2 separate regions of the Homo sapiens genome follow, and region 1 is linked to region 2. The links come from fine-mapping of genetic effects on gene expression. A gene starts in region 2. The other region holds a variant in brackets. All regions are shown on one strand. Distances are from middle to middle. Region 1 overlaps DLST (dihydrolipoamide S-succinyltransferase). Region 2 holds the start of PROX2 (prospero homeobox 2).

Region 1 (15,966 bases), 26 kb before region 2:
GAGGTGAGGGGCTGAACTAGGCCAGGACACCCAGAGGCGGAAAGTCTGCGCCCAAGACAGAAGGGAGGCAGGAGTGGGAGCCGGCCCTGGCATCCATACTCTTTTTCTCCCTGTCCCCACGCTCACCGCTCCCTCTGCATGGCCCAGGAGGCACTCTCTGGTCCCACCTGCTCTCCCAGGCGCACTCCCGACATTCTGGGCTCAGCTCTGGCTCTACCCAGGAGAGGATGAAGGCTCAGCTCAACCCCCACCTCAACCTCCTGACCCCAGCGAGGCTTCCCTCAGGCCATGCCCCTGGCCAGGACAGAATCGCCCTGGAGCCTCCTAGGACTTCTCCGAACCTTCTCCTAGCTGGGGAGGCCCCATCCACCAGACCCCAGAGGGAGGCTGAAGGTGAACCCACAGCCAGGACCAGCACCTCTGGCTCCTCGGACCTTCCAAAGGCCCCAGGTGGCCACCTGCACCTTCAAGCTAGGAGGGCTGGCCAGAACTCAGACGCTGGGCCCCCTCGGGGGCTCACTTGGGTTCCTGAGGGGGCCGGCCCGGTGCTAGGGGGCTGTGGCCGAGGCATGGATCAGAGCTGCCTGTCAGCAGATGGGGCCGGCCGGGGCTGTGGCAGGGCCACCTGGAGTGTGAGAGAGGAGCAGGTGAAGCAGTGGGCGGCAGAGATGCTGGTAGCGCTGGAGGCGCTGCACGAGCAGGGGGTGCTGTGCCGGGACCTCCACCCCGGGAACCTGCTCCTGGACCAGGCAGGTAGGTGCCCTCCTCACCCCTCAGTGGGGTGGCCCCCAAAGCGTCCAGGCAGAGGACGAGAGATCCCCAAAGTCGAGGGGACCTCCAAGGTTGTCTGCTCCTCCCTGGCCCCAGCCAGCCTTTCAGGGGGCCTAGGCTGGAGTCTGTTGGCCGAGGCTCCTGGGAGTACCCTGTGGGCTCTGTGGGCCTCAGAGTGCTGTGCCTCTGTGGAGGGTGCTGTGCCCCTGCCGAGTTTCTGCCCAGCAAGGCCATTGGCTCCTACCGCATGACTGTTGGGGGAAGCCCTGCAACCCCCTCCCCTGTATCAGCTGTCCTCAATCTGTCCCCTCCTTTTTCCTCCCACACACTGGAGGTCACATCCGGCTCACATATTTTGGCCAGTGGTCAGAGGTGGAGCCCCAGTGCTGCGGGGAGGCCGTGGACAATCTCTACAGCGCCCCAGGCAAGAAGGGGGGAGGCCAGGGTGGGCCTTAGCACCTGGGTGCCTTTGTGTGGGTTGTGCCCAGAGTCTGAGAATGACAGAGCGGGTGGGTGGTGTCTGGGTAGGCTGAGGAGAATGGAAGAGGCCCTCTTAGGTGAGGCTGGGACACCTGTGTTCTTGTTCCCACAGAGGTGGGTGGGATTTCCGAGCTGACGGAAGCCTGTGACTGGTGGAGCTTTGGGTCTCTACTGTATGAACTGCTGACGGGAATGGTGAGTGGCTGGGCTGGGTGTAGTGCCCTGGTGGGTGCCACTGAGTGTGGGATGGGCCAGGCTTAGTCCATCCAGCCAGTCTGGGCAGAGACTGCCTGGCTGTCCTACCAGCACAACTGCCCCCGAAGCCAGGGACACACTTAGCACTCCCAACACATTAGTTGGCTATAGCTAAGGAGACTGTCAACTTCTATGAATACGAGTAGAGTGGGATGGTCAGGGAAGGTTTCTGCCAGAGAGCCTGGGCCCAGGTGGTGTCAGATTTGGAGGAAGCGCGGAATGTGACACAGCCCTTCTTCCCTGGAAGGCTGTTCAATCATCCTGAGCCCGCTGTTCACTCCTCCCACCCATGACCTCGTTGGCTGTCACCCCCAGACCTTAGCTGGAGGATGGGAGAGAGGGGCTCTTTCACCCAGGCAAGCAGCTGCCCTGTCCAGCCTGGGTCAGCCAAGAGCTCAAAAGATCCCCCTGCAAACACTCCGGGAACCTGTGTTTGCAGGTTGCAATCAGAGCAGGCACTCTTGGGAACAGTTGATGGCTCTGCCTTCTGTCCTCCCCTCATGAGCTGAACACTGCAACTGAGGCCAGTTATGTAGGCAGCAAGGGGGAGGCCAAATTGCATTTGAGCAGGAAATAGCCGAAATGGATGCAGCGTGAACTGAAGTCCAGAGCTGACCAGTCCATCCAGGCTCCCTCCTGCTTTCGTCCCATGGCACGGGGTCCCGAAAGTCCTGGCTGCAATTTCCCCCAGAGTGGCTCTCTCTTTTCCTGTCTCCTCCCACCTCTCCAGCCCAGAGCTCTTGGCCTTCCTCCTGGGGGTTCCTGGAAGCTCATACTTCCCTCCAGACAGACCCTCTGCTCCTCAAAGCTGTGCCTTTCTGGGGTGTGGAGAGGTCCTATTTTCTTTTATTGCCACGCCGCTGCCTTGGCCCCGATGGTAGCATGCCATGGCCTGCTGCCAAATGAACAGCCCGTGTGGATTTTTAAAATAAGGAGACAAGTTCCATCACTATTCCCAAGAGTGCCTGCCCTGATTGCAACCCAAGATAGTTGCTTCTAGCAAGCTTGGAGCCAAGAGACCTAGGTTCAAACCCTGAACTCAGCACAAGTCCCTTTACCTCTCTGGGCCTGTTTCTTGCCTTTCGTGGATAACATAAAGGCACTGCTTAGCCATCAGGCACTGTGTCTGGCTGTAGCAACTATCATTATTGTCATCCTCCTCATGGGCTGTGACATGGGGAAAAAAAATCCTGGCTGCCACTGGAGTGTAGACGGTCCTGGGGTTGCCTCCTCAGAGGCCCTTCCCTGTGTCCTCCCAGGCACTGTCCCAGAGCCACCCTTCAGGAATCCAGGCCCACACCCAGCTCCAGCTGCCCGAGTGGCTCAGTCGCCCAGCGGCCTCTCTGCTGACTGAGGTGAGGTGTAGCCCGGCCAGAGGAAGCAGCTGCCTAGCCTGAGGAAGGTGCTGGGAGGGGCACAGAACTGTGTCTGAACCACGTGTGCTTCGTGCTCAGTGTCTGATGTGGGTGCAGAGGGCAGTAGGGGCAACACATTTCTATATGTTGGTGGCCAACCACCACCAATGTTCCCAGGGTAAAATGGGGGTTCTGTGGGCCAGGCTGCCAGGGAGCAGGCCCCCTAGAGGCCATAGTGGTTGGAGTCCCTGGAGGTCACCCCATGCCTCCACAGCTGGAGTGGCCCAGCTGACTGGGCCTCTCTCTGCAGCTGCTGCAGTTCGAGCCTACCCGGCGCCTGGGCATGGGAGAAGGTGGTGTCAGCAAACTCAAGTCCCATCCCTTTTTCAGTACCATCCAATGGAGCAAGCTGGTGGGGTAAGAGGGCAGAGCGGGTGACGGAAGCAGCTGGCCTGGTCTGGATCGCCTCTCCTCCTTGCCTGACACCCAACCCAGGGCTGGCCCTCTATCAGCGGGCTTTGGGCGAGGAATGGAGGGCACTGTCTGTCCTGCTGGGCTCCCACTGGGGCCTCAGAATTATGGCCACCACCCAGGAAGGGCCAGCTCCTGGAAAAGCTGGAGGTGGGGGCAGTCAAGGCTTGCCCTGCTAAGCAGCTTGAACCATCTACCCATCAGTCAACAGACCCGTTGAGCATGTGGACTCACCATGTTAAAGGTTGCCTTCTGTGGCACTGGCGCTGAGCTGTTGACCACCTGCTGCACCCTACTGTGAGGTTCTGTGACTCACTCACTGCCATGTTGTGCCCCACTCAGGACATCTCTGGAGACTCATCTCAGGACACTGATCCACTGGCTCAGTGGACCCAAACCAGACTGTCCTGGCTAGTCCTCTTAGTCACACAGCGAGTAGGCCTCTTCCACCAGAAGCTGTTCGTGCAGCTGGGGAGGCCCAGAAGCAGGGATGCCATCTGTTGTGCAGGGAGGGATGAGGTAGGGGACAGGATGACCCCCACCCCCACCCCCCCACCCCCGATTCCTGACCATGCCCCCTATCTTGTGATTTCAGACTTGGGAGAGCAAAAGGGAGGGGAAGAAAATAAGAGTAATGGGGGGAGGAAGGAATGCATGGGTCTGCCCCTTAGAGCAAGTCTGAAACCAGAATCAAGAGTCCTCCTCCCCAGTGGGCCTGTGTGGGGGAAGAGGGGCAGCCTGCCCCAGGGGTGCAAGAGGACAGCAATTCAGCTTCCAGGCCAAAGCAGTTTAGACAAGGTGTGCCCATCAGGACTCCCTCTCAGGCCCTGGCTGTTTACCATGTCACTGCCTACTGTGACTTCATGCCCTTTTGGGATAAGAAACCACAAAACGCATGGAACAACTATCCATGGCTCTTAGCCAGAAATGTCTTGCCTCTGGTCTCTGAAAAGCTGGGGTGAGTGGTTACCTCAAAGACAATTGCCTCCAGTTTGGGGGCTCCTCTCAGGGTTCACCCTGTCACCGGGGCGTGGGACCGACCTGGGAAATTTCCACTAGAGTTTTGCCCTCAGCTCCTCCCTGCCAGCATCCCAGTCACCACCAGGTGGCGCTTCTGACACGGTCCACGTGCCTGGCTCTGAAGGCCCAACTGTCAGACCAGACCCCTCACTCATGGTGGGGAGACTTGACTTCCTCGGGCTCTTCAGGAGACTGAGACAGAGAAGACAAGTGAAAGCGCAGCCTGTACATGACTCTCTGTGGTCCACGTCCTGCCTCTCCCTGGGGTTTACACGGCCCCAATAAAGCCTGCTCTGGCCTACGGTGTTCTCGCTTCTTCCATGCAATGACCACGGCTCATTGGGGCAGGTTGGAAGGCTCCCCTGTAGAAGCTCCAGAGTGAAGTCAAGAGCGAGCTTGGGGCTGCCAGGAAGTAGGACGCAGGGCTGGTGGTGAGCAGCATGCCATGTGGGCCTCAGGGGAAGGGGTGGGGTCGGGGAGGACCAGGTTCTGTGGGGAAGAGGATGAAGAAGCCTTGGAAGAGGCTCATGGTGCCTGGGGGAATACCAGTTTCATCCTCACAGTGACCCCTTGCAACAGACGGTAGCTCCTGAGAAAACTGAAGCTCAAAAAGGTTAAGGACACAACCTAGCCAGAGTTGCAAGTTAGTGTTCCTTCTGCTACTCTCCCTAAGTCAGGCTGGACCACTTCCAACCACCGCTTCATGAAGCACAAGTCCCTTCTGGAACTTCTGTGCTTCATCCACCCAAAGCTACACATCTGACACTTTGTTGGGCCCTGAGTTTAGAATACTGTGGGTCCCAGCTCTTACAGTCGACCTCCTTTCGATAAAATGGGGTAAATAATGCCTATTTTGCAGGTTTACCAGATAGATAAATTAAAGCTTCTAACACCAAATCCTGTTCTTCCTTTCATTCAACCTAATTTGTTTTTCTATCTACTAGAGCTCTAGTTCTACTCTCTGGGACCCACTTCCCTCCTGTGACAGACCTTCACAGAGGGATGGCCTCACTGCAAGAGCTCAGCAGACAGGGACTCTGGAAAAGACAAGGCTGTGTTTAAGCCTGGACTCCATCACACCTGCCACCTGCAGTCTAGGTTAGCTACCCACCCTGTACACTCACGCTCACTGACCACTGCTCCTAGGTCATCAACCCTCACCTGTTCATGTGTATTGACCTTGAGCATCTTGGTCCACAAGGCTATCAAATCCAAATGAAATGAGATGCCCCCACTCCTCCCAAATCCATCACTGAAATAATGTAAGCCCACACAAAAAATGCAAGTCTACTGGTGTTTTGAAAGGGCTTCACAAAGATGGTGACCCCAAATTCTCTATTCTAGAGTATGGCTTGACAGGCTCAAGGAAGGTGGGGCACTAAGAGACTATGATGCTTTATGGAAACAAAACAAAAAACATCCTAAGCCCCCCAACCATCTGTATGGACCCCTCGTCTCAGTCAAGGGTATTCCAAAGTTAACCTGAAACGCTAGTTCGGGCCATGGTGGGAAGAGGGAGCCAGCCATTCCTCATTATACTCCCCTCCCTTTTGGAATTACTGTTAAAACAGGCTCCTTAAGTCTGATGAGAAGCATTTACAATCTATTTTCTCTGAAGCCTGCTGGCTGGAGGCTTCATCTGCATAAAACCTTGGTCTCCACAACCCCTTACTGTAACCCAGACATTCCTTTCTATTGATTCCAGGTCTTTAGATAATAACTCTTTCAACCAATTGCCAATCAGAAAATCTTTGATTCTGCCTATGACAACATCCCCAGGTCTTGAGCTGTCCTGCCTCTCCAGACCAAACCACTGTACATCTTACATGTACTGACTGGTATCTTATGTCTCCCTAAAATGTATTAAATGTATAAAACTAAGTTGTAGCCAGACGACCCTGGACACATGTTCTCAGGATCTCCTAAGAGTTGTATCACAGGCCATCAGTCACTCACACTTGGCTCAGAATAAATCTCTTCAAATATTTTTACAGAGGTTGACTCTTTTTGGCAACACTTTCCCGGCTGGCAGTCAGGGTTCTACCTTCTGTCAAATTATGAGTGTTAAGTTCCACATAAGGGATTTCTGATTTCACAAAATAAGCAACAGGACCTTGAGTGGCTTTCAATAATTTCAGTGCAACAGTGCTGGGGACTTGTACCACCTCAGTAGCCAAAAGGAACAGATACAGGAACCCTGTTTGAGAATATCTGCCCTTTAATTTGCATTTAAAATCAGTTTCTTTAAATACTTTAGTTACAAGTTCTGAATAGTGAAGACAGAGTAGTAGATGCTGCAGGCACTCAGTATTGGCTCCCACCCCTTCCCCCCTCCCCCACCCCCAGGCCTCACTTCTTGGCTTAAGATACAAAAGGGCACTCTCTACTGGCCCTGGTGTCAAACGTCAGCAGCCTCAGGCCTGGATGCAGTTGGATACAAAGCCATGAATCCCAGTGGCTCCAAGGAATTCCAATGATTGTGCCCAGATCCACGGGCAACACACCTTAGAAATGACCTCATCCGTTTCACCACTAGGTACTAACACCCTCAGGGTGGTTTCCTACCCCAGTCCACGTCCTCCAGATCTGTGTCCTGCAGAGGAAGAGACAAGGCCCCGCTATAACGCAGGAAGGAACAAAAACTGCCTCCTCAGCCCAGGTGCTTACAGCAACTTAACTGAAAAGCTCAAGGCAATGTGAGTCAGTCTAGAGGAGACCTCCCTTCCCTAGTCTCTACCAGGCTCTGGCCCTTCCTCGGGACCACGCTTGGTCCCACTGCCATGATGTGCTAGAATCTGCTCTAAGAACAAGGTGCTAGAATGAGGCCCAGCAACCAGCAAAGGGGTTGGAAAGGGTTGCTACAGCCCCAGCTGTGTGAGATTGTGCCAAGACGAGTCTTCTTGGTGTCAGCCTATGATGGAGAGCGTGAGGGCAGGCCTGGGCTCTCCTTCTATGATGATTACAATGCATGACCTCAGGGGACCTCTGCCCTCTCCTCCCACTCACACACCCAGATCCCCTGGCCTGTGCTTCCTGGAAGAGGTAGAAGAGGCATCTTGAAGTCAATGACAACGGAGAATGAAGGTGCCATTGAAGAAGCAAAGCAGCACCTCTTTGCCTGTGTTCAATCCCTCCACACAAGTGGAATCAAGGGAGAATGTGCACAGCCAGGACAGAGGCTGCTCTGAGCTTGGGAGGCACAGCATCCTCCTAGAAGTCTCTGCAGAACAAACTTTCAAAAGATAGGAACTTAATCACATGGTCCCCAGGGGTTTCTCTATAGTATACCAGCACTAGGGAAAAGCAAAATCATCTTTGCAGAGAGCTGATGGAAGAAAGGCAGGAATATGAATGAGCATCCATTAAGGCTCTCTCTCTTAAGCCTAAGGAATTAAGATATTCGAGGCTATGAGACAGGTGCAGAGAGGGAGAGCCTGGCAGGAACGCCAAGAAAAGACCTGTGACTGCTGGTTACACAGTGCTCTGCTTCCTTGCTTGAGGCCAACAGCATGTGTCTGCCTGTCACCAGGCTAACCCGGGACCCATGAGGGGACAGGGAGAAGACTGGTTTTCAGTTCCTGCATGATCAACTTGTAGGGTGTGTGGGTTCCTCCTAAAGATCCAGGAGGAGGACTCTGGGATCCTCTACCGCTGCCTTGATTTTGCGGAGGAAAGTCACAGCCTCTCTGCCATCAATCAGCCGGTGATCATAGGTCAGTGCCACGTACATCATGGGCCGCACCTCTACCTACAGAGAGGAAAGGTAAATAGGTTTGTCTCCAGCAAGCCACAGCCAGCCTCGCTGAAGGAGATTTAGCACAGCCCATAAGAAAGTTCCTAATTCCAGAGCCTTTCCTATTGATGTTGCCTCTGCATATTTACAGTATTTCAAAGACCAGGACTTACCCTCAGTGCAAAGCTTCCCCACTCAGAAACAAAGTTTGCCAAGAAAACTGTCTTCTCACAACTGCCTTTTATTTTTTAAAAACATACTCTGCCCTCTAACGCATCTGCTGCCTACAAGGAAAGTTTTCCCTTCAGTTCTGGCTGCCTGTACTTGCTTCTCTCTGGGGTTAGAATTTAAAAAAAAAAAAAAAAATTAAGCCAGGGTCTACAAATTCTGGAATTGTATGTGTAGCTGGGTGTATGGGCATTTTCCAGGAAGATCTACAGACTGTGGTTTCACACAGGAGTCAGTAACCCAAAAGGATTCTAAACACAGGAGTTCCCAGAAAGCTTTTTTGATACCAACGTATCTTCTAAGGGCCAGCTCAAGCCCCTTTTAATACTTAATTCTCTGAACTCCCGGGAAATTTACAAGCTTTATCATACAACTTGGCAGCTCACAGACTGACATGCATAATTGTCATCTGTTTCCCAGGGGCAAGGGACCACGTTTCCAACTATATCCCCCACTCCATAGAAGCAAACAAGCCTCCTCAGCTCAGTGGTTCTCAAACTTGAATATGCATCAGGATCATCTGCACTTCTTCTTTAAGTCTGGGATGGGGTCTAAGAATATGCATTTCTAATAAGGTCCCAGATGATGCTGATCCAGACCACAATTTGATAATCAGTGCCTTAGCTATTAGAAACTAAGAAATGGAACTTAGGCCTGAAATTATAGTTAATGTTTTACAATTAGCATTTAGTTGGATTTCCCTTTCATCGAGACCTAGCCACTAGGACCTTAGAAGTGACGGTTCCTACCTTGCCTCCTATAGCCACTGGCCTGTCAAAGATGCCATGCATCCCCAGGATGGCAGACTGAGGGGGGTTGATAATGGGTGTTCCAAAGAGCGAGCCAAAAACGCCTCCATTGCTAATGGTGAAGGTACCGCCATCCATATCTTCAATGGCAAGTTCATTCTTTCGGGCCTAAAAACAGATTTCATAATTGAAATATCAAGCCAACCCAGTTTCCTTCACCTAAAGTCAGTCCATAATCCCAGCGCTTTGGGAGGCCGAGGCAGGAGGACTGCTTGAGGCCAGGAGTTCAAGGCCAACCTGGGCAACATAGTGAGACCCCCATCTGTATAAAAAACTTAAGAATTAGCCAGGCATGGTGGTGCACACCTGTAGTCCCAGCTACTTGGGAGGCTGAGGCAGGAGAATCGCTTGAGCCCAGGAGTGCAAGGCTGCAGTAAGCTATGACTCTACCACTCTACTCCAGCCTGGGCAACACAGCGAGACCCTGCCTCTAAAAACAAAAAAGCAAAGGAAGTCCAGAAAGCTTGTATCGAGATCGATGGCACAAGCGCTAGCTTCCGTGTGACAGTTGTTCGGCTAAGGTGTCTATGACCAGTGCTCCACCAGAGAAAAGGCACAATTTCATACAGTTGAAGACTTCAAAGATGATCTTTTCTAGCAGGTCTCATCTGATGAGATTTCAGTTACCAGAGCATGGTAAACTCCACCAGATATATAAAATACTTAGCTCTCATGGGCAACTGCTTTTCTCAGGGGCTATGCACTTGACTTTCCATGAGCACTGCTTGCTAGTGAGCCCAGCCTTCTGAAGGCTCTCTTCCCTCGCCTGCTTAGCAGCTTGTATACATCTTTCTACTTTACCTTCTCTCCCAGTTCAGTGATGGTCCGTTCAATATCTGCAAAATTCATAGCTTCCACATTCCTGATGACTGGAACCACCAGACCCTGAAGGGGGTGAAAAGCTGTTTTCAGTTGCAAATTAATAGTACCTTTTATAGTTAACAACTCCCTTGATTCAACCCATGGTATGCCCTCCCTAGAATACCTTCATTACTCAGTGTGATTAACAGAAAGTGTTAAAAGAATGCGGCATGGTTTAAAAGAAAAAAAAGGTTACTTTTACTAACTCCCTTCTAAAAATACAGAATTAAAGAAATGATTTCTCTTGTGTGATCTCCTTCACACAGATAAGGTGAGGGTCTAAGACCAACATTCCCCACCTCCTGCCCCAACATACCCGTGGGGTGGCCACTGCAACACTGATGTCAATATAATCCCTATACACCACCTCTTTGGTTGTGTCGTCAATCACTATGAGAGAGAAAATACATGTTACATACAACTCCCCAGGAAGGCCAAGACTAATGAGGTAATATGTGCATTAACAGAGTAAAAATCTGCAGAGCTTGATACAGTGTGGGCTGACCAACCACCATGAACACCACTGCATTATGCATGGCAGCTGGCATTCCACTTACTCCCATCCCAAGTATAGTATCTCCCAAGTCCCTGACTGAGCCTGGGCATAGGAGCATCCATTTCTTTGGCAGCCCTAAGAAGGGCTCAACACACTGGCTTCCATAGGATAGGTATGCACTAAACTCTCGTTAAGTAGCTCTAGTCAAGCCCTCCTTTAGCAGAGAATGACTAGGGTTAACAAATGTTCCAAAAAAGGGCAAATTAGCAAAGGAAAAGGGATATAGAGATACTACCCATTCTCTGCTTCCAACTCTCAACAAGAGGAAGAGGGGAGATCCAAGAGTAAGCGGGGTGATCTGGCTTTGAAATATGCTACCTCAAGAGATGGCAAACCAGCATCTGAAAATGTACACCTAGCAACTAATGGGAAAATAAAGGCTTGGGAATCATTTCCGCAGAAAGTCCATGTTGTATTGTTAGATAAGACATCCAGAGGAAGCATGTAATGTGAAAAAGAGGCCACGAGAACTTTTGAGAGCCGCCTACATGTGTGGGCAAGCAGAAGGGGGCCACTGAAAAAGATGAGAGCCAGTCAGGGAGGCATGAGAAGAATGGGAAAAAGAAGAGGTATACATTTGGGCAAAACAAAGATGGCCTTCTACCTCCCTAGAGCACCACTCAACAGGAGGGACTAGGGCTTCTACTTCTAGACCTTTAGGGCCCCTGACACTGCTGAGGATGGCAAAAGTAGCACTGACCCCTCTCCAATCTCCCAAGGAACAGAGAAGTGTGTCAACAGGAAAACAAAGTGCTTGTTAGGTCAACACTACAATGACGTAGGTAAGTAAAAAGGAAAGAAAATAAGCACCAGGTCCATGAGAGGCCAAGCCGAAGCTCCCAGTGAGGCCCATCGACCTAAGATCAAAGGTCAGCCAGGAGCCTACACCAACTGTGGAAGTCAGGCCCCAAGGTAACAGGGCCTGTGGAGCTGGGGGAGGGGAGGAAGCCAGAACACGTGCTTCCACCTTGACAGGAGACAGCCTGGAGAGCTGGGCTATCCCAGAACTGCCTGCTGCCTGAGCAGCTGCCGAGCTGTACACTGGGAAGAGAAACTGTTCTGCCCAGCTGGCGGGTAGAAAGTAATCATGATGCTGCTTCAGGAAGGTGAACCAAGAAATCCCTGGGGAAGATACTGATATTTCTATAGGTAGCAAATAAAAAGCCTTGGTCTGTTGATCCTCTGCATGTGGGAGCAGGTCTGTGCTCATACACCTACCTCCCAGGACCTCTCCAATTCCAGCCACAAGCAACTCACCTGCATTTACAACAGGCTGTTCCTGCAAGGCAAAGGCTGAGGCCTTCACAAATGCCGACATGAAGCCTAGTTTGAGGTTATGTTTCTTCAAAAAAGCCTCTTTGTGCCGAGCCCTCAT[C/T]TCCTGGATGTTACTGTGAAAATATTACAAAACAAACTGACCACAAAGCCTGCATTTTGACTTTCACACAGGTTTCTCAATCCATATACACAATTAGGTGAGAGCTTTTCCCTCACTCTGGACCATTACCTTAGTTCAAGTTTTGAAATAGTCTACCTGAGGTTAACACAGTAACTCTGTTCTTTTACAAAGAAATCTACAGGAATCAGGCCCAATCTGTCTTTAAGGTGGGTTGATCTCTTTACAGGGCTCCTTCATGGTCTAGAAGTCACAGATTTCAGTGACACATCATATGAACAAGAGATCACACAGCACACCAACATCCTTGCCCTGAATAACTGAGCTATCCATCCTGAAAAAAAATTTTTTAAAGTATAAACAAAATCTACAAAATAAGCAATATTCTTTTTATTTCTTGTTAGAATACAAAAAAAAAAAAAAAACCCCACCAAATCTGAGTATAACTCCCGTGTGATATTCCTCCTATCTCTTGATTAGTGGAGACTAAAATAAACAGCTCATGGGTACATGAGGCTCCATGCGGGAAAAAGCAGTCATGACTCTGCAGGGAAGGGTATAACCCAGTGTTCTTTCAGGCCCACGGAAAGTCATATCCGTTCTTCATCTTTCCAGGGTTGGCAGTTCCATCCACTTATTCTTCCAAACAGGTACTAACACCTTACTACATGTGAGGGTCAGGGCCAGGTACCAAGATACAAAGCTAATTAAGACATAGTTCTTGCCCTAAGATTAGTTTAATGGCTGTGATTTCCTTGGTATTTAGAAAAGTGGCCACTTGTGGTTTAGGCTGGTTCCCTTCAGATTAAGCAGCAAGCCTTCTGAAAAGCCTTTACAACATGAGCAGCCTTTATTCTTTTGGGACTGGTTTTTTTTCAATGACACATTGCAGAGTTAGTGAGAAATGGCTTTCCCATCACTTTGCTGCATAAACCTCAGTATTTATCGGAATGCAGTAATGCAGTTCTACGATGAAAATTGAATTTAACTTTATCTCAGGGCCAAATGCTCAGTTCTCCCTTTCTCCCTCTAATGGCCTAATTCGACATTAGCATGAAAGGTAAGATGTGGTACAATTTTAACAGCCCCCTTCAGATCTTTTGTTTTTGAAAAAGGAAGTTTTTCCAAGGGGGACTGATTGGGTTTAAAATGCTTGTTTTCCTGATTCTAACCTTATTTAGTGCTAGGATTACCACCCTAAAGACATTACTGGTTCCCAAGACACAAGAGCTGCAGAAGAGGGAAAGAGATGTGATAAACATCTCTGCTCTCAAACCTGCCCAAATGTTATTGTCTGGTCATTAAGTAGCTTCTATTTCAGAGCTCTGCCCTTGGAGGCAAAGGCTGGGACAATAGAGGAAGGGAGAAGGTCTCAGAAAGGTCCCTTATGGGTTAGCTGATCAGCACAAGACCCAAAGGGCACTCGATCTAAACCAAATTAGGCTGCAGCAAGACCGCAGGCCATTGTTAAGTGACACCTTGATTAGCTGCTGAAAGGAGATCCAGCTATTACGCTTCCTTTCCAATCAAAGCTGTTGGGCCAACTGCATCTTTCAGGGCCACAAATATTTACATGTTTTGTCTTAAGAAACTGGGTAGAATTTCAAAGTCCAATTCAATTTGTGTACAATTTGGCCCTAATGCACTGAAACATAAGCTGCAGCCTTTGTGATTCATTAGTCAAGGTCCTTCCCCTACATCCTATGAACAAGAGAGAAATCTTTGGCTTGAATGTCATCCAGTCTCTTCGGAAAGTTTCCCAACAGAATGGATGACATCTAGTAAAACAGGTCACAGAGCCCTACTCTGAACAATGCCACAGCGCACTATCAAGAAAACACTCCCTTCTCCCTATTTTTCAAACCCTTTCCAAAGAAAAGCAAATTTCTCTAATGAAAAGTAGATTCGCAGACTAAACCCTCAGGACAAAAAGAAAGAAAGAGATGACCTGAGACTTGACTTGCTTCCTGAATTAAATATAAACTCCTACCCTGGCATTCAAAACATTCTGAAATAAGGATCCAACCTTCTTTACCATTCTTTGCTATACAAAATCCTCACAACAGAAATGATTTTTGACAATTTCTCAAATGTGTCTTCTACTTTCCCATCTCATGGTCTACACTGTTAACATCATCTGGAATGACCTTTCTCCACAAGGCTGACAAAATGCTAGTCACTCTTGAAGACCTGTTTAAAAATTCTTTTTTGGCCAGGAATGGTGGCTCATGCCTGTAATCCCAGTGGGAGACCAAAGCAGGAGGATGGCTTGACCCTAGACGTTCAGGAGACCAGCCTAGGCAACACAGCGAGACCTTGTCTCTACAAAAACTAAAAAAATTGGCCAAGCCTGGTGGCACATGCCTGTAGTGGTCCCAGCCATTTGGGAGGCTGAGGCAGGAAGATCACTTGAGCCTCCCAAGTAGCTGAGACTATAGGTCCATGCCACCATACATAATTTTTTTTTTGAGACACAATCTCGCTCTGTTGCCCAGGCTGGAGTGCAGTGGCGCGATATCAGCCACTGCAACCTCCTCCTGGGTTCAAGCAATTCTTGTGCCTCAGCCTTCCGAGTAGCTGGGATTACAGGCATACGCCACCATGCCTGGGTAATTTTTGTATTTTTAGTAGAGGCAGAGTTTCACCACGTTGGCCAGGCTGGTCTCGAACTCCTGGCCTCATGTGATCCACCCACCTCAGCCTCCCAAAGTGTTGCGATTACAAGCGCAAGCCACCGCACCCAGCCCTCACTTGGCTAATTTTTAAATTTTATGTAGAGACAGTCTTGCTATGTTGCCCAGGCTGGTTTCCAACTCCTAAGCTCAAGCGATCCTCCTTCCTCACCCTCCCAAAGCTCTGGGATTATAGGCACGAGCCATGGTGCCCAGCGTCTATCCCCACTGAATTCCACAGTACAGTACTCTGTATACAGTACGCACTCAAAACACGTTTGTCAAATTTCTCTTCCTGACAGTGCTGATACTTGAACACATTGAAATCTTGAAGAAAACAGGTAAGTCAACAATTAGCTCACTACAGAAATGGGCATACCTAGTGAATTAGTACCTTTGGTTAACATTCTAAGGTTATTTAAAAACACAACTTGTTTTCCATTTCACTGTCAGAGCTGGGTAAAATGAAAGACAAGCCCAGCCTATCTTTGCCTTTTCATCCACTCGATTCTGAATCACTTAGGAAAATATGTAAGTGACGGGGTCAAACAATCCTCCCATCTCAGCCCCCCAAGTAGCTGGGGCTACAGATGTGCACCACCACACCTGGCTAATTTTTGTATTTTTTGTAGAGGTGGGGTTTCGCCTTGTTACCCAGCTGGTCTTGAACTCCTGGACTCAAGCAATCCGCCTGCCTCGGCCTCCCAAAGTGCCAGGATTACAGGTGTGAGCCACTACACCTAGCCAAGGCTAAGGTTAAGGTCATGGAGGAGGCAGGCATAGTATTAGGAAAGCCAATTAGAGAAGAAGCCAGCGGCTCACTCTGTGAAAGTTAACAATAAACAGGCCAGGCGCGGTGGCTCACGCCTGTAATCCCAGCACTTTGGGAGGCCGAGAAGGGCAGATCACGAGGTCAGGAGATCGAGACCATCCTGGCTAACACGGTGAAACCCCGTCTCCACTAAAAAAATACAAAAAATTAGCCAGGCGTGGTGGGGGGCGCCTGTATTCCCAGCTACTCTGGAGGCTGAGGCAGGAGAATGGCGTGAACCCGGGAGGCGGAGCTTGCAGTGAGCCGAGATCATGCCACTGCACTCCAGCCTGGGAGACAGCGAGACTCCATCTCAAAAAACAAAAACAAAAACAAACAAACAAAAAACAATAAACAAATACCTCTTCCCTGACAAGTTAGTTTTAGAATCAGCACTAGATAAGGAGTGGGGCAAGTTCGTGTTCTCTAAGAAAAAGGGGCCTAGGGGATAAGAGGGACTAGAGACACTACCTCATGTCAATCTCATTAAAAGTTGTCAGCATTGCACATGTATTCTGGGCCTCCTTCAGACGCTGAGCAATGCGCTGCCG
Region 2 (15,966 bases):
GACATTGTTCAGGGTTCCCACTTGAAAAACATGTTTGTTATTGAGAGTCCACTACAAGCCGACATTGTGCTAGGGGCTTTATGTTCTCATAACTCTCAGGATAAAGTCCACACTTTACGCGATCCTGTACCGTCCAGCCCACTCTATCTTTCCTGCCAGACAGGCTTCTTCCCATGTCTATCACTGGTCAAGTCCTTTCCTGTCTGAAAACCTTTGCACAAGCAATTCCCTTTGCCTGGAATACATTTTCTTGGCTCTTTTATATTCAGGTCTCAGTTAAATGTCACTTCTTCAGGGAAGCCTTTACTGACATTCCCAACCTTCCCAAGCTGGTCTACATCATCCCACCCTCTCATCACACCCTTTAATTCCTCTCTCGTAGTAACCAAAATTTATGCCCTTGTCGGAGCATAAATGTATATTTGCTCTCTCTCTCCAGCTAGCCCATAAAATCTCGAGGCTAGAGTCTATCTATACCCCTGTTACCTAGAACAGTGGCTGGCATATAGTAAGCACTCAATAAATGATCTGTTGAGTCCATGAGTAAATGAGAACATGGTGGGTTAAGAGTTCAGGATGGGTCAGGTAGACCTGGCTTATCAACAGCTGGGTGGGTGACCATGGCCAAGGCTTTTAAGCTCTCTTGTCTTGGGTTATGCATTTGTAAAATAGAGAAAATACTTTTTACTGTTTTGAGATGATTAACTAAAAAATTCACAGAAAGCACTCATATAAATGCTTGGCACAAAGAAAGCCCACAACAAGGTCAACTCATTCAACAAATACTTAGGCTAGGCATATAACAGAAAAAAAGCTATGGATGACACTTTTTTCTTTTTAACTGCTAGGATAAAATCTAAACTCCTTCAGTCTCTATACCATCTTCTATCTCTTGCCACTCTCTCCCTTAACCAAAATACTCCGGCCAAATCACCTTTTTTCCAGCTCTTAAGTTCTGCCAACCTCTTTTCTTCCTCAGGGTCTTTGTGAATGCCATTCTCTTTCTCCTGGGCTTCACTGGGTTAGCTCCGTCACATTCTGCTAGCCATAACTTTTTTTTTTTTTTTTTTTTGAGATGGAGTCTCGCTCTGTCGCCCAGGCTGGAGTGCAGTGGCGCGAACTCGGCTCACTGCAAGCTCCGCCTCCCGGCTTCACGCCATTCTCGTGCCTCAGCCTCCCGAGGAGCTGGGACTACAGGCGCCTGCCACCACGCCCGGCTAATTTTTTGTATTTTTTAGTAGAGATGGGGTTTCACCGTGTTAACCAGGATGGTCTCGATCTCCTGACCTCGTGATCCGCCCGCCTCAGCCTCCCAGAGTGCTGGGATTACAGGCGTCAGCCACCGCGCCCGGCCATGGCCATAACTTTTAAGTCACCTCCTCAAAAAGGGCTCTTCTGTCCACCCTCGTTTCCTTCTCAGCAGTTACAAAAATTTGCCTTTGTTGGCTTGTTTAGCAACTGACACTATCCAACTAGCCTAGGAGCTCCACGAGGGCAAGAACTGTACACTTCTGTATCCACTCCTGTATCCCTAGCGTCTAGCACAGTGCCTAACACAGTAGAAACTCAACTACGAGCTAAATGAATAAGCGATAGCTCGTGATTATGTAGCATTGCGTCTCACTACTCTCTGAACCAAACTGTCTTTAAATATTATGAGAAACACAGGCACCCCCGAGTTCCTCACATACTGCTCTGCCCAGGAGGAGAGCATTTTAGGTGACGGTAAGGGCAGAACTTACCAGGCAGGGAACGTCTCCCTAGAGGGCAGTTCCCCTGTTGAGAAAGAAGACATTATCGACGTCACCCAAGATGAAAAAAAAACCCAGCTTTTTCTTTTAAGTACACGCTCAAAGCTGTCCCAGTGGTGGTGACAGGTGAATCTCGTAACTCCGAAGGTAAATGCAACACACCGTGCTGGCAGACCCAATCAACACGCTGGGCCTGCCAAACTATCTCAACTTCCCAACGGGACTCATTAATACCCACTGATTTTAACAGAGCAAGACGAGACGGGCGCCGAATCCCGCCGGAGGACTCCGCCGCGCCTCCTCCCTAACTCTGAGTCAAGTATCTGGACGGGCGCGGCTCCCCAGCTCCCGCGCGGAGGGTGGGGTACAGCAGGAAACGTTCCCCGCAGGCTGCCTGGAGAAGGCAGGGGGCCGCTGGGCTCCGCAAAACGGTCCCGAGGGCAACCACGGCCCCGGGCCGCCCAGCCCGCGCGGCCTCCGCGTCCCAGTGCCCTTGGTGCCCGGCCCGGCCGGCGCGCCGCGCCCCTGCCTTCCAGGCCGCCTCTCTGCCCGCCAACAGACTCCTCACCCGTCGGGGCCCCGGCTCGGCCAGACCGTACCTTCTGGAAGGCGGAGAGCGAGCGGCTGAACGCCCGAGACACACAGCGGGATCGGGACAGCATCACGGCGGAGGAGCCGAGGGCGGGCGGACACCGGATATAGGGCCGGACAACAACCGGAAGTGGGGCGGGCCGCAGTACCCGCCGCCCGACGAGGGGTGTTCGGAGCGAACCACTGGCAGGGGGTGGGCGCACGGCGGCGCCCAGTATCCCGGCTGCAGCGCAGGAGTCCCGCTCTCTGGAGCAGGCAACCCTAAGGCGCTCTTGGGGCCCTCCGCACTGCCTGTCAGCCTGAGGTGGTTCTCCTGAAGGTGTATACGACTGTCCCGCCACCACATTGCCCCCGGGGTCAGGCCTTCCCCTACCCTTCCACAGAACTGGCTCTGAGCTTGGCGCCCTTCTCTCTTGGGACCCGAGGGCACCGCGCCGTTCCGCCTCTGTACCTTGGGAAGAGAGCAAAAGAGGGGCACGGACATTGAACTGAAACCTTGGCAGACATGCATGCCTGATCTTACACTTGTGTGGCCTGGGGCAGATGACATTGCCCCCCACCCCCAGTCTCAGGTCCCTTAACTATTAAAAAAAAAAAAAAAGGCACTTGTTACTTCCCTGTCTTCCTAACCCCGAGTCAAAGAAACAGAATCCCAGGAATTTCTAAATCCCATTGCCTTTTTACGAGTCGGATATCTTCACCAACTATAGCCTTATTTCTCAACAGCTTCTGATCTCCCCCCAACGCAAATTCCAGCCAAACTAATTGTTCCCCATACATCTTGTGCATTTTGGAAGTTGTTCGTTTGTCACCCTATCCCTAGAATATAAACTCCCAGCTGTTTTTTTAAGAAACAAGGTCATAGTTCACTGGAGCCTCGACACTCTGGGCTCAAGCGATCCCTCTGCCTCAGCCTCTGGAGTAGCTGGGACTACAGGTGCCACCATGCCAGGCTGACCTCCCCACTTTGAGTGTGCCATTCTTCCCGCTGACTTGAAGTGAAAGCATATAGCATCCCCTTCCCCTCCTTAAGTATTCAGGCCCCTTGAGTATTCACCTTTAAGGCTCACCTTCCTAATGAAAAAGATGTGCTTTAAACCTCTGGCTGAATTAGTAACACATAAATGTATGAATGAATGAATGAACCACTTGGTGCCGTTCATGATGATTTCTTTATCTGAGGCATTTTGCCTGGCCCTCAGGACCTTTATTTTTTATTTTTCTAATTAATTTATGTTTTAATATAAATTGAGACGGGGTCTCACTATGTTGCCCAGGCTGGCCTCAAATTCCATCAGGACCTTTACAGTGCCTTCACTCACCTGAACCCTGAAAGCACTGCCACTGAAATTCTGGAAGGATGGGCCAAAGTCCTAACTAGAAATAGAGAAAACAGCTCTGCCCTGCTGCTACCCACAATTAACTCCTCAGTAGCTTTCACCTGAATTATTTGAAAAGCTCCCTAAGCAGTTCTAAGCCTCCGCTCTCGCTTTCTCTAGCCCATCATCCTTTATATCTGTGTCAAAGATCCTTCTGAGCCTGGTGTGGTAGCTCACGCCTGTAATCCCATCACTTTGGGAGGATGAGGTGGGTGGATCACTTGAGATCAGGAGTTCAAGACCAGCCTGGCCAACATGGTGAAACCCCATCTCTACTAAAAATACAGAAATTAGCTGGGTGTGGTAGTGAATGCCTGTAATCCCAGCTACTCGGGAGGCTGAGGCAAGAGAATTGCTTGAACCCAGGAGATGGAGGTTGCAGTGAGCCAAGATTGCACCACTGCACTCCAGCCTGAGCAACAGAGTGAGACTTCGTCTCAAAAAAAAAAAAAAAAAGAAAGTAAAGAAAAAAAAGAAATCCTTCTGAAATGCAAACCTAATCCTGTCACTCCTCTGATTAAAGTCTTTCATTGCTTCTCCTGGTCGGATAAAGCAAGGGAGATAAAGTTTATCTCCCTTGTAGGATAAAGTACAAACTCCTCAACTTGGCCAGGCACCTGATAATCAGGCCTCTGATTATGTTCTGATTCTCTCCCCACATTCTCACAGATTGTGAGCTTTAGTCAAACCACACTACTGGCCATAGCCTTGCTGAGCTATTTGCATGGGCTGTTTCCTCCTCCTATTTGCCTAGGAACTCCTAGTCATCCTTTAAATCTCCTTCTTAATCCCTTCCTAACCCCTCTGGCAGAGTTAACAGATACATTTTCTATGCTTCCAAAGCACTGTGTCTGGGTTTCTACATTGCATTTTATTGTAATGTCCTGTTTACCTGTCTGTCTCCCATGCTGCATAGAGCAGCAGGTGGAAAGAGACCACTCTCTATTTTCCTGAATTTTCCAAACACAACACCTGGGACATCAGAGTTCCTGGGACTCTGTAGGTACTCAATAAATATTTGTGGAATGACTAAATACTTCCATGTTTACAACATTGGTGGACACAGCTGAAGAATCCAAGAACGGTAGTCAGGGGCTATGGCAATTTCTTGCCAGTGTTGCTGTTAATATTTTTCTTAGATAGCTACCCAGTCCTTTCACGGTCTTTTTTTTTTTTTTTTTTTTTTTTTTTTTTTGAGATAGAGTCTTGCTCAGCTGCCCAGGCTGGAGTGCAGTGGCATGATCTCATCTTGGCTCACTGCAACCTCTGCCACTCGGGTTCAAGTGATTCTCCTGCCCCAGCCTCCCGAGTAGCTGGGACTGCAGGTGCGTGCCACCATGCCCAGCTAATTTCTGTATTTTTAGTAGAGACGGGGTGTCAGACAGGGTGTCACTGTATTTTTAGTAGAGACAGGGTGTTGGCCAGGATGGTCTCAAAATCTTGACCTCATGATCCGCCTGCCTTGGCCTCCCAAAGTGCTGGGATTACAGGCTTTCACAGTCTTTAACAATTTTTGAGATTCTTATAGAAGGTGTAGAGGCTTCAGGCTGGGCACGGTGGCTCACGCCTGTAATCCCAGCATTTTAGGAGGCTGAGGCAGGCGGATCACGAGGTCAAGAGATCAAGACCATCCTGGTTAACACGGTGAAACCCCGTCTCTACTAAAAATACAAAAAATTAGCCGGGCCTGGTGGCGGGTGCCTGTAGTCCCAGCTACTAGGGAGGCTGAGGCAGGAGAATGGCGTGAACCCGGGAGGTAGAGCTTGCAGTGAGCTGAGATCATGTCACTGCACTCCAGCCTGGGTGACAGAGCTAGACTCCGTCTCAAAAAAAAAAAGATGTAGAGGCTTCAAGACTTCAAGCCTGGTTATAATGTGGCAAAGCACTTCTGGAGTTTTAGTGATCACCCAAGTTAATCTTAGATATTACAGTCTAAAGACACCACACACACACACACACACACACACACACACACACTCGAGCATGGTTTCATACAAAATCCCATTGAGAGGGTAAAAGTTGAAATTGATTTCCTCGAGATTCACATACGAGCTTCCATGGACTCCAAGCTGCAACCCAATAAGCTAGGGCACTCCTTCATTTAGAGCTTCCCAAGACACAGCACCATCTACTGGGGCAAGAGTTTATGAATATAAATTGTGGCAGGGCTCAAAAGAGAATTTTTTTTTTTTTTTTGAGTGGAATCTCACTCTGTTGCCAGGCTGGAGTGCAGTGGCATGATCTTGGCTCACTGCAACCTCTGCCTCCTGGGTTCAAGCGATTCTCCTGCCTCAGCCTCATGAGTAGCTGGGACTACAGGCGCCCACCACCATGCCCGGCTAATTTCTGTATTTTTAATAGAGACAGGGTTTCACCATGTCGGCCAGGATGGTCTCGATCTCTTGACGTAGTGACCCCTCCACCTTGGCCTCCCAAAGTGTTGGGCTTACAGGCGTGATCCACTGTACCCGGCCCAAAAGATAATTTTTAAAAACATTTTCATTGTAAAATACGTATTAAAAAGGATATAAAAATCTATGTGTCCAGTTTAAAAGAAAAATAATAAAAGGAATTCCCATACTTGCTGCCCAGCTGAAGGAATGGAAAAGTTCCCTGTGGTCTCCTCCATCATCACACCCAGTTAGCCACTACTATACTGAATTATATATTAACCATCCCCTTGTTTTCATTATAGCTTCAATATGCTTATGTTCTATACACATTTTTGCCTGTGTTTTTAAATTAAGAAAAAGATGTCTCCAGCAGTGGTCTGATATAGAAAAAAATAAAAAATGAAAATGAAAGATGTATTTACTTTCAAATTAAATAAGAAAAAAGGTGTGTTTTTAGAAAGGATTAAGTAGCTCATTTACCTCAAATCCCCCGGTTTTCTTATGTGTGTTCTGAACCATACATTCACATCCTTGCCTATGAGTTTATGAATATTATCGGCCAGCTAGTAGATGGGGCTATAGCCTATGCTTCCATCTTTGGGCTCCTTAAAATAGGGACTATGCCCTATATTCACTCAGTGTTACCTATGATACCTAGATTCCATCTATCTGTCTATCTCTTCATTCAGTTGTAATTCAAAATAATGGACTGATGAATACACAATGAAAATCTAGACATGTTTTTGTGTGGGTATTTTTTTTTGGTCTATTTTTTAACTTAGTAGAAATGGAATCACAGTGCCTGTATCATTCTGTAACTTACTTCTTTTTTTTTTTTTTTTTTTGAGACGGAGTCTTGCTCTGTTGCCCAGGCTGGAGTGCAGTGGTGTGATCTCGGCTCACTGCAAGCTCTGCCTCCCAGGTTCATGCCAGTGTCCTGCCTCAGCCTCCCAAGTAGCTGGGACTACAGGCACCTGCCACCATGCCCGGCTAATTTTTTGTGTTTTTTAGTAGAGACGGGGTTTCACCGTGTTAGCCAGGAGGTCTCAATCTCCTGACCTTGTGATCCACCCACCTCGGCCTCCCAAAGTGCTGGGATTACAGGCGTGAGCCACTGCGCCCACCCTTTTTTTTTTTTTTTTGTAATGGGGTCTCACTCTATCGCCCAGGCTGGAGTACAGTGGTGCAATCTCGGCTCACTGCAACCTCTGCCTCCTGGACTCAAGCAATCCTCATCCTCCCACCTCAGCCTCCCAAGTAGCTAGGACCAAAAGCACATTTTTTTTTCTTTCTTTTTTTTTTTTTTTTTGGTATTTTTGGTACAGATGCGATCTCTCTATGTTGCCCAGGTTGGTCTTGAACTCCTGGGCTCAAGTGATCTGCCCGCCTCAGCCTCCCAAGGTGCTGGAATGACAGGCGTGAGCCACTGAGCCCAGCCTCTGTGACTTACTTCTTTCAGTCAACATTGTATTTTGAGGATTTGTCCACGTTGATGAGTTGAGCTGTGGTTTACTAATTTTCATTGCTGTATTTCACAACATCCCCTCCACTTCTCAAGCTGAAGGAGGAGGGGAAGGCAAAATTTGGGTTACATTCGGGAGTAGGTGGGTTTGGCCAGTGAGTTCTCCCAGATCTGTCAGGGATGGGTGCTTTTGGCCCAGCAGCAGCTTCCTCAGCAGTGTTCAGGCCTCTGTGGGAGGGAGGGACCACGCAGCCTCTCCTTCCTGCAGATCTGAGATGCCATGGTTTGCTGTTGGGCTGATTCCAGTCTTCTCAGGATGCTTGAGGGACAGGGAGAGGATGTTCATATTGGAGCTGCCTCTCTGGGGAATTTGAAAGCAGAAGTCAGGAGCTTCCCGCTGGAGGCCAGAGCAATGAGAGAAGCTGGGTGATTCAGTCCCCAAGTTTTCAAAGGGCTCTGTGGTCCATAGGCAAAGACAGAAGAGATGGCATTTCAGGAAGGCCCTCTCTGAGCTGGCTTTTCTGGGCACCTGAGTTGGGGTGGCGTTGAGAAATGGCATGGGGGCAGCCAACCAGCTGGCCTCAATTTGCATATTCATAAGCCCCCCATGCCGGTTGGCTGCGCTAAGCAGCCCCCACTGTCCCCAGAGTCAGCGGCTGCAGCAAGACTGGGTCTGTCAGACAGTGCCTTGTGCTAAGAAGGGGCCAGAGCCTCCCCTCACCCAGCCACGGGCACCCGGCCTGCCTGGAGAGGAAGCAGGGAAACCAGAAGCACTTCCTGACCATGGCTCTGTCTGCCCAGGGCTGGTGAAGAGTGGGCTGCTCCGTCTTCTAGAGTGGTTGGCCCCACCTGGCCACAGAGCCCAAGACAAGGACCTCCCAGAGGACCTCTTCCCTGTGAGTAACATCATCCTTTCCATTTACCTTGCCAGAGTACTTTTTAAAAAATTATGGAACATTATGAAAATTGTCAAATATGCAGAGAAGTAGACAGAGTAGCATAGCAATACCCACCCCTATACTCATCACCTAGATTTAACAATTGTTCATATGTATTTGCTTATTTTTGTTGGCTGAAATACTTTCAGGCAAATTATAGACATGGAGACATTTCACTCCCTAATTCCTCACTCCATAATACTGTGTATGCATCTCTGGAGCCCTTTTGAAGCTCTTCTTTCATTAGATTCTCACCCAAGTTCTCAGTGAAGGGATGATTATCATCTCCATTTTATAAAAGCTGAAACGCAGAATATGCGGCTTTAGGGCCAATGACTGGGAGTAGTGCCCAGACCTCCTAACTCCCAGCCCAAGTGCTTGTACAGCCACATGAAAGGATCTCTGATGTCCAGGGGTGTTTTCCTAGAGAGCAAGGAGGCATTGCAGCTGCTGTGTGACCTTGGGCATGTCACCTTACCTCTCTGGGCTCCTGGTTCCTCATCCATAAAGTAAAGGCATGTCATGAAGATCCTCGGACCCCTAACGCTAGCCTGTGACATTTCCCTTGGTTTTTAGAAAAATGAGAAAAGACAATGTAAAGAGTTTTTCGCAAAGCTAAACTTATTTGCATATTATGCATTTCCCCCTTTTATTCTTTTAAAAACAAAGTGGTTAAGATTTTATTTTATTTATTTTTTATTTTTTTTTGAGATGGAGTCTTGCTCTGTTGCCCAGGCTGGAGTGCAATGGCACGTCTCAGCTCACTGCAACCTCCACCTCCCGGGTTCAAGCAATTCTCCCTGCCTCAGCCTCCTGAGTAGCTGGGATTACAGGCATGCACCACCACGCCCAGCTAATTTTTGTATTTTTAGTAGAGACAGGTTTTCACCATGTTGGCCAGGATGGTCTCAAACTCCTGACCTCAGGCGATCTACCCATCTCAGCCTCCCAAAGCGCTGGGATGACAGGCGTGAGCCACCCCGCCCAGCTAAGATTCTTTAAGAAATAAAAATCATGTGTCATGAAGGGAGATGAAAAAATTTTAAAGAGGAAATAAAAGTGATGGTAGATAGTAGTCTTTTGTATACTTATTTTTTGTGCCTTCACCTGCAAAATAAAATGTCAGTAACTCTCAAACTGGTCCAATATCTTTCCTCTTCGTTTCATTTTTTATTTTTAGTAAACCAATTTTTATTCATTTTAAATAAGTTTTAAACTACTTTTGTTTTGGGGGCTTTTAAAATGAAAACTGAGTTAGGTCCACTCCAATGCCCACTGATTTATTTTTAGGAAATTTGTATAGGCCGGGCGCGGTGGCTCACGCCTGTAATCCCAGCACTTTGGGAGGCCGAGGTGGGTGGATTACGAGGTCAGGAGTTCAAGACCAGCCTGGCCAAGATGGTGAAACCCTGTCTCCACTACAAATACAAAAACTAGCTGGACTCGGTGGTGGGCGCCTGTAATCCCAGCTACTTGGGAGGCTGAGTGAGAAGAATCGCTTGAACCCGGGAGGCAGAGGTTGCAGTGAGCCAAGATCACGCCACTGCACTCCAGCCTGGCAATAGAGCAAGACTCCATATCAAAAAAAAAAAAAAAAAAAACTTGTATGATGCTGGCAGGTCATCCCAAAGCTCTGAAATCATATCTATCTTGATTTCCCATTCTGCAGCTTTCTTTTCAACATGTTCTCTGAGGATTTGTGTAAAGAATATACTGCTGTTCTTGCCATTTCCAAAGCGGTCTTTAGAAAAGCCATATCTATCCCTTTATTATTTTTGGTCCCAAAAGGCGGATTCATAATTACTGTATCAAATGACTTGACATCCTGTTAGATAACAGGCACACATCACATTGAACCATGTCAATATTTGTTAACTCAAACTCTTCCACATTCCTATTAACTATTTCCAATACATCTTCATCTCTGTCAAATCCAACACAGAACCCTGCTCCTCACACTGCAGTTCCCATGCTAAGCATTCCACCACTACAGCCTAGATCTGCAAAAACTTCACTTTCAATGTCATCATAAGTGCTATGGATTGCATACAGCATACATGCTGCAATGTGAAGCTTGGTGGGATACTGTTCTAGAAGTAGCTTGGCCTTTTCGAATCCATCCACTTATTGCAGGTGACTCTCTAGTTCCTTAAGCCTTAATTCCTTCATTTTGTTTTTTTAAAAATATGGACTCTCAGGGTTTGAAGGCACAGGATCTCAGGAGGCGACTGGCACCTTGGCCGGGGCCAGAAGACCTCTTCATTTTATTAATGGTTGACATCTAAAAATATAAAAATCTGGAGACCAGCCACTGTACCAGATGCTCCTAAGCCCTTTCCAGCTCTGGAGTTCTATGGCTGTGGGGGCTCCTGAACCCCCCCTAGGAGGAAAGGAAACCAGTTTAAGGAGTGCCTATTTCCCGCACCAGAGAATGCAAGGCCCACCACATGTGATCCTCACCACAATCCTAAGAGAGTGACTGTTATCAACCCCATTTTACAGCCAGAGAAACTGAAGGGGAAAAGGCAGAGTTAATTTGTGTAAGTTCACATAAGAGCTAACAAAGGGCTGGGCGCGGTGGCTCACGACTGACTGTAATTCCAGCATTTTGGGAGGCCAAGGCGGGCAGATCATGAGATCAGGAGATTGAGACCATCCTGGCTAACATGGTGAAACCCCGCCTCTACTAAAAATACAAAAAATTAGCTGGGCATGGTGGCACGTGCCTGTAGTCCCAGCTACTCGGGAGGCTGAGGCAGGAGAATCACTTGAACCAAGGAGGTGGAGGTTGCAGTGAGCCAAGATCGCCACTGCACTCCAGCCTGGGTGACACAGCGAGACTCCATCTCAAAAGAAAAAAAAAATAGCTAACGATTCCCCCCAGGTCTAATACCTGGTAGATCATTCCATAGTTCACAGCCATGCAGTGGTTGATGCAGACCACCAGGGCTTCTGACTCCATTGTGTCTGTGTCTGTGGATGGACAGGGCTGTGTGGCCTGGGCCTGTCAGTCTGACCCCCTCTCCTCATTTCTGTCATTAGCCAGTGCAGTGAAGAGAGCCTGTTCAGGGCTGGACCAGAGATGGATGGGTGGCCTCCGACCTGTAGCAGAGTGGGGACAGTGCAGGGGGCCTCTCATCATAGAGAATAAAACAGGACAAGGCTGTATATGAAAATGCCTTTGAAAAGCATAAAAACGCTATGTGACTTTGAGATGTGCTACCCTGAACAAGTCTTCATCAGTAGCAAAAGTTAGCTCTGTCTGGCAAGTATTTGGATGGGCGGCTGTTCAGGAGTACAATGGGTAAGGCAAAAATGTATTCATATACAGATGTGATTAAGTCATCATTATTATGAAATGCCAGTGGTGGGCCCTTAGATCCCATAATGAGTGTTGATGAAGGTAAAAGCAGCTGTTTCAGGATAAGGCATTTTCCTCCATACCTTTCCAATCACGTTGGGTGGTCATCTACTAAGCACAAGGCTGGTCCAGTTGGAATCCAACTGAATCTAGGAAATGAATGAACAAAATACTGCAAAGAAAAACATGTTTTCCCAACAAAAACCAGGCAGGAATTTTATCAAGGAAATAACAATAAAACTGCTTGTATAAATCTGATTTGAGCTTCAATGACAGTGATGAGAATGAGTTAGCATCTCTTGGGCTTCACGAGGTACCTTTTACCTAAGGACTCTCCATAGCCCACCTTGCTTTATTGATTGGTTCTCTTGTGACCCAGCTGAAGCGCATCAAAGGTGTTTGCTGTTCCCTAAATGTGTACACATCACAGAAGGGGAGACATGGCCTGTGAGCTGCCAGTCTCACCTCAGCTGGCCTCATAGGCAGCCCTTCCCCTTTGTCCCACTTGGGCAGAGCTTCGGGAGCTCTCCAGGGATATTCCATGGAAGGACATAGACCCACAGGGAGAAAGGCTGCCATGTAGGAGGTGATCTGTGCAGGTGATGATGCCACAGACACTGGCTGTTCCTTTTCAGCTCATGCCCCGGTGCTCTAACACAAAGCTGAAAGGAGACAACACACAACTTCTCTCGTATGTTCTTGTTTGTTTGTTTGTTTGTTTGAGACAGGGTCTTGCTCTGTTGCCCAGGCTGAGTGCAGCGGTGCTATCATGGCTCACTATAGCCTCGACCTCCTGGGTTCGAGGTCCTCCCACCTCAGCCTCCCAAGTAGCTGGAACCACAGACAGGTGCCACCACATCTGGTTAATTTTTTCTATTTTTTGCAGAGATTGGATCTGATATGTTGCCCAGGCTGGTCTCGAACTCCTGGGCTCAGGTGATCCTTGAGCCTTGGCCTCCCAAAGCACTGGGATTACAGGCGTGAGCTACCACATCTAGCCTTATGTCGTCCATTATATACTTGAAATTCAAACTCACCCTCATTTTACATTTTCCAGCTATAAAATCCTATGTGCCTTCGCAGTTATCTTATAAGCCCTGTGTTCTATGCTTGTGTTTGTAGCTAAATTTGCTTCTCCAGTGGGGTTTTTTATTTCTGGTACCGAGGAATATGTATCTGGGAAAGAGTTAATGAGAAAAAAGTGCAGTTTTTTTAAAAAAAATAGACTTTATTTATTTTACTTTATGTTTTTAGAGACAGGGTCTTACTTTGTTGCCCAGGCTGGAATGCAGTGGCTATTCATTGGCATGATCGTAGCACACTACAGCTTTGAACTCCTGGGCTCAAGCAGTCTTCCCACCTCAGCTTCCTGAGTAGCTGAGACTACAGGTAAGCACCACCACATCTGTCTAGACTTTATTTATTTATCTATCTATTTATTTATTTTTTTGAGATGGAGTCTCGCTCTGTTGCCCAGGCTGGACTGCAGTGGCTTGATCTCGGCTCACTGCAACCTCCACCCCCGTGGTTCAAGCAATTCCCCTGCCTCAGCCTCCCAAGTAGCTGGGATTACAGATGCATGCCACCACGCCCAGCTAATTTTTTTGTATTTTTAGTAGAGACAGGGTTTCACCATGTTGGCCAGACTGGTCTCGAACTCCTGACCTCAGGCAATCCACTCCCCTTGGCCTCCCAAAGTGCTGGGATTACAGGCGTGAGCCCCTGCGCCCGGCCTAGACTTTATTTTTTAGAGTGGTTTTAGGTTCACAGCAAAATTGAATGGAAAGTACAGAGATTTCGCATATATCCCCTGCCTTCAACATGCATAGCTTTCTCCATACATGCAAATGTTTAATTAACAAAGGCAAGATTGCCTTTTTTCATTACAAAACTGAAAACATATCCATTAAAAATTTAGAAAATTCAGAAAAATAAAAAGAAAAAATAGAGAAAAAAATTACCTGTGGTTCTATTACCCATAAACAACATTTTGATGTATTTATTTCTCTATAATGTATGGGCGTGTGTGTGTGTGTGTGTGTGTGTGTGTATTTTTTTTTTTTTTTTGAGGCAGGCTTTCCCTCTGTTGCCCAGGCTAGAGTGCAGTGGCGCAATCAGAGCTCACTGCAGCCTCAACTTCTTGGTCTCAGTGATCCTCCTGCCTCAGCCTCCCTAGTAGCTGAGACTACTGGCACAAGCCACCACAATGCCCAGGTGATTTTTTTTTTGGAGAAACAGGGTTTCGCCATGTTGCCTGGGCTACTCTCAAACTCCTGAGCTCAAGCAATCCTCCCACCTTAGCCTCCCAAAGTGCTAGGATTACAGGCATGAGCCACCATACCTGGCCTCATATTTTTCTTTGTATTTTTAATATCTAATTTTCTCTTACCCCCCCACTCCAGTTTTATAAAATAATGTTACATAAACTTTACTTAAACACTATTTTTCAAAACGGTTGCATAATATGGCATCATGTAGATTATACCATACCTTAACTAGTGCCTACTCTTATTAATAATACTTGGATGGCCATCTTTGACATAAATTTATGAGTCTAGCCATCATTTTCTTGGCTTAACTTCATAGACATAGACTCACTGATTCAAATGGTATAAACATTTTTAAGTTTCTTAATATACAATCCATGAATATTTCCAAAAAATATATGAAAACTGAGCAAGATTACTGAGAATCAAAGAAATACACATAATGAGGTAACATTGTCACCTACCATAACGGCAAAGATTTAAAAGACAATGCCCAGCGTTGATAAAGATAAGGAGATGTATGTTCTTTTATAGATACATTGGTAGGAGCATAAATTGGCTATTTAAAAGTATATATATACAAGTAACACACGAATATATTCTTGTAAAAATTCAATTAATATAGAAATACACAGAGTAAAAGTTGAGATCAGGCATGGTGGCTCATGCTTGTAATCCCAGCACTTTGGGAGGCCAAGGTGGGTGGATCACCTGAGGTCGGGAGTTAGAGACCAGCCTGACCACCATGCAGAAACCCTGTCTCTACTAAAAATACAAAATTAGCCGGGTGTGGTGGTGCATGCTTGTAATACCAGCTACTTGGGAGGCTAAGGCAGGAGAATCGCTTGAACGTGGGAGGCAGAGGTTGCAGTGAGCCGAGATCACGCCACTGCACTTCAGCCTGGGCAACAAGAGCTAAACTCCATCTCAAAAAAAAAAAAAAAGTTGAAGGTTCTGCTTCAGTCCCTCCTCTCTACCCCCAGTCAGTTGGTACATTTCTGGAGGACAGTTGGAAAAGAAGTAGAACAGTTTAACGTAGTCTCAGCCTTTGATGCAATATTTTCACTTCTAGAAATGTAGTCCCCAAAGAAATATGTAGGAGTGTTAATCCCAATATTATTCATAATAACAATAGCTACAACTTATCAGCAATAAGTAAGTGCCAGGAACTGTTCTAAAAATATAACATGTGTTAACTTATTGGATCCAGATGTGAATTCCACAATAACCATAGATATTATGGTTATGCCCATTTTACTGATGAGAAAACTGAGGTACGGAGAGGTCACAAACTTAGCTAAGTGGCTCTAGGGATTCAAGTCTAGGCAGTCTGATTTGTGGGTCTATGTTCTCCATCTATCTCCATACTATCTTATTTTTTTTTTTTTTGAGACGGAGTCTCGCTGTCGCCCAGGTTGGAGTGCAGTGGCGTGATCTCGGCTCACTGCAGGCTCCGCCCCCCTGGGTTCACGCCATTCTTCTGCCTCAGCCTCCCGAGTAGCTGGGACTACAGGCGCCCGCCACCATGCCCAGCTAATTTTTTGTATTTTTTTTAGTAGAGACGGGGTTTCACTGTGTTAGCCAGGATGGTCTCGATCTCCTGACCTCGTGATCCGCCTGCCTCAGCCTCCCAAAGTGCTGGGATTACAGGTGTGAGCCACCGCGCCCGGCCTGTCTATGCTTCTATAATAGTGAAAATATAAGAAGGAATCTATCAAAGGAGAACTTGTTAAGTAAATTAGGGTACATCTATACAATGGAATATTATCAGCTTTCACAACGTTGCTGTAGATTGATATTCATCCACATGAAAGATTTAAAAAT

What was found. PIP is the estimated chance that this variant, and not a neighbour inherited with it, causes the effect.
Region 1: its variant is fine-mapped to the expression of PROX2 in whole blood (TOPMed, PIP above 0.99).

Annotation. Positions count from the first base shown.
Region 1 is chr14:74,894,330-74,910,295 of GRCh38, reverse strand. DLST (dihydrolipoamide S-succinyltransferase) reads right to left here. Exons shown (of 15, transcript NM_001933.5): 10 at 15,887-15,966; 11 at 11,797-11,927; 12 at 10,300-10,373; 13 at 9,924-10,007; 14 at 9,063-9,230; 15 at 6,553-8,100. The coding sequence ends at 7,966. It overlaps RPS6KL1 (ribosomal protein S6 kinase like 1), which reads left to right. Exons shown (of 12, transcript NM_031464.5): 8 at 148-753; 9 at 1,106-1,195; 10 at 1,364-1,446; 11 at 2,766-2,861; 12 at 3,172-6,345. The coding sequence ends at 3,282. Among named protein-coding and RNA genes, the nearest start is that of DLST, 20 kb to the right of the region's middle. RefSeq lists a cis regulatory region at 11,399-11,412 and an enhancer at 11,333-11,477. The variant C/T (reference allele first, on the strand shown) is at 11,915.
Region 2 is chr14:74,868,401-74,884,366 of GRCh38, reverse strand. PROX2 (prospero homeobox 2) reads left to right here and starts at 8,222. Exons shown (of 6, transcript NM_001243007.2): 1 at 8,222-8,472; 2 at 13,130-13,264. DLST (dihydrolipoamide S-succinyltransferase) reads right to left here and starts at 2,451. Exons shown (of 15, transcript NM_001933.5): 1 at 2,351-2,451; 2 at 1,743-1,776. The coding sequence starts at 2,413. It also overlaps the pseudogene METTL5P1. RefSeq lists silencers at 2,107-2,436, 2,293-2,519 and an enhancer at 7,778-8,277.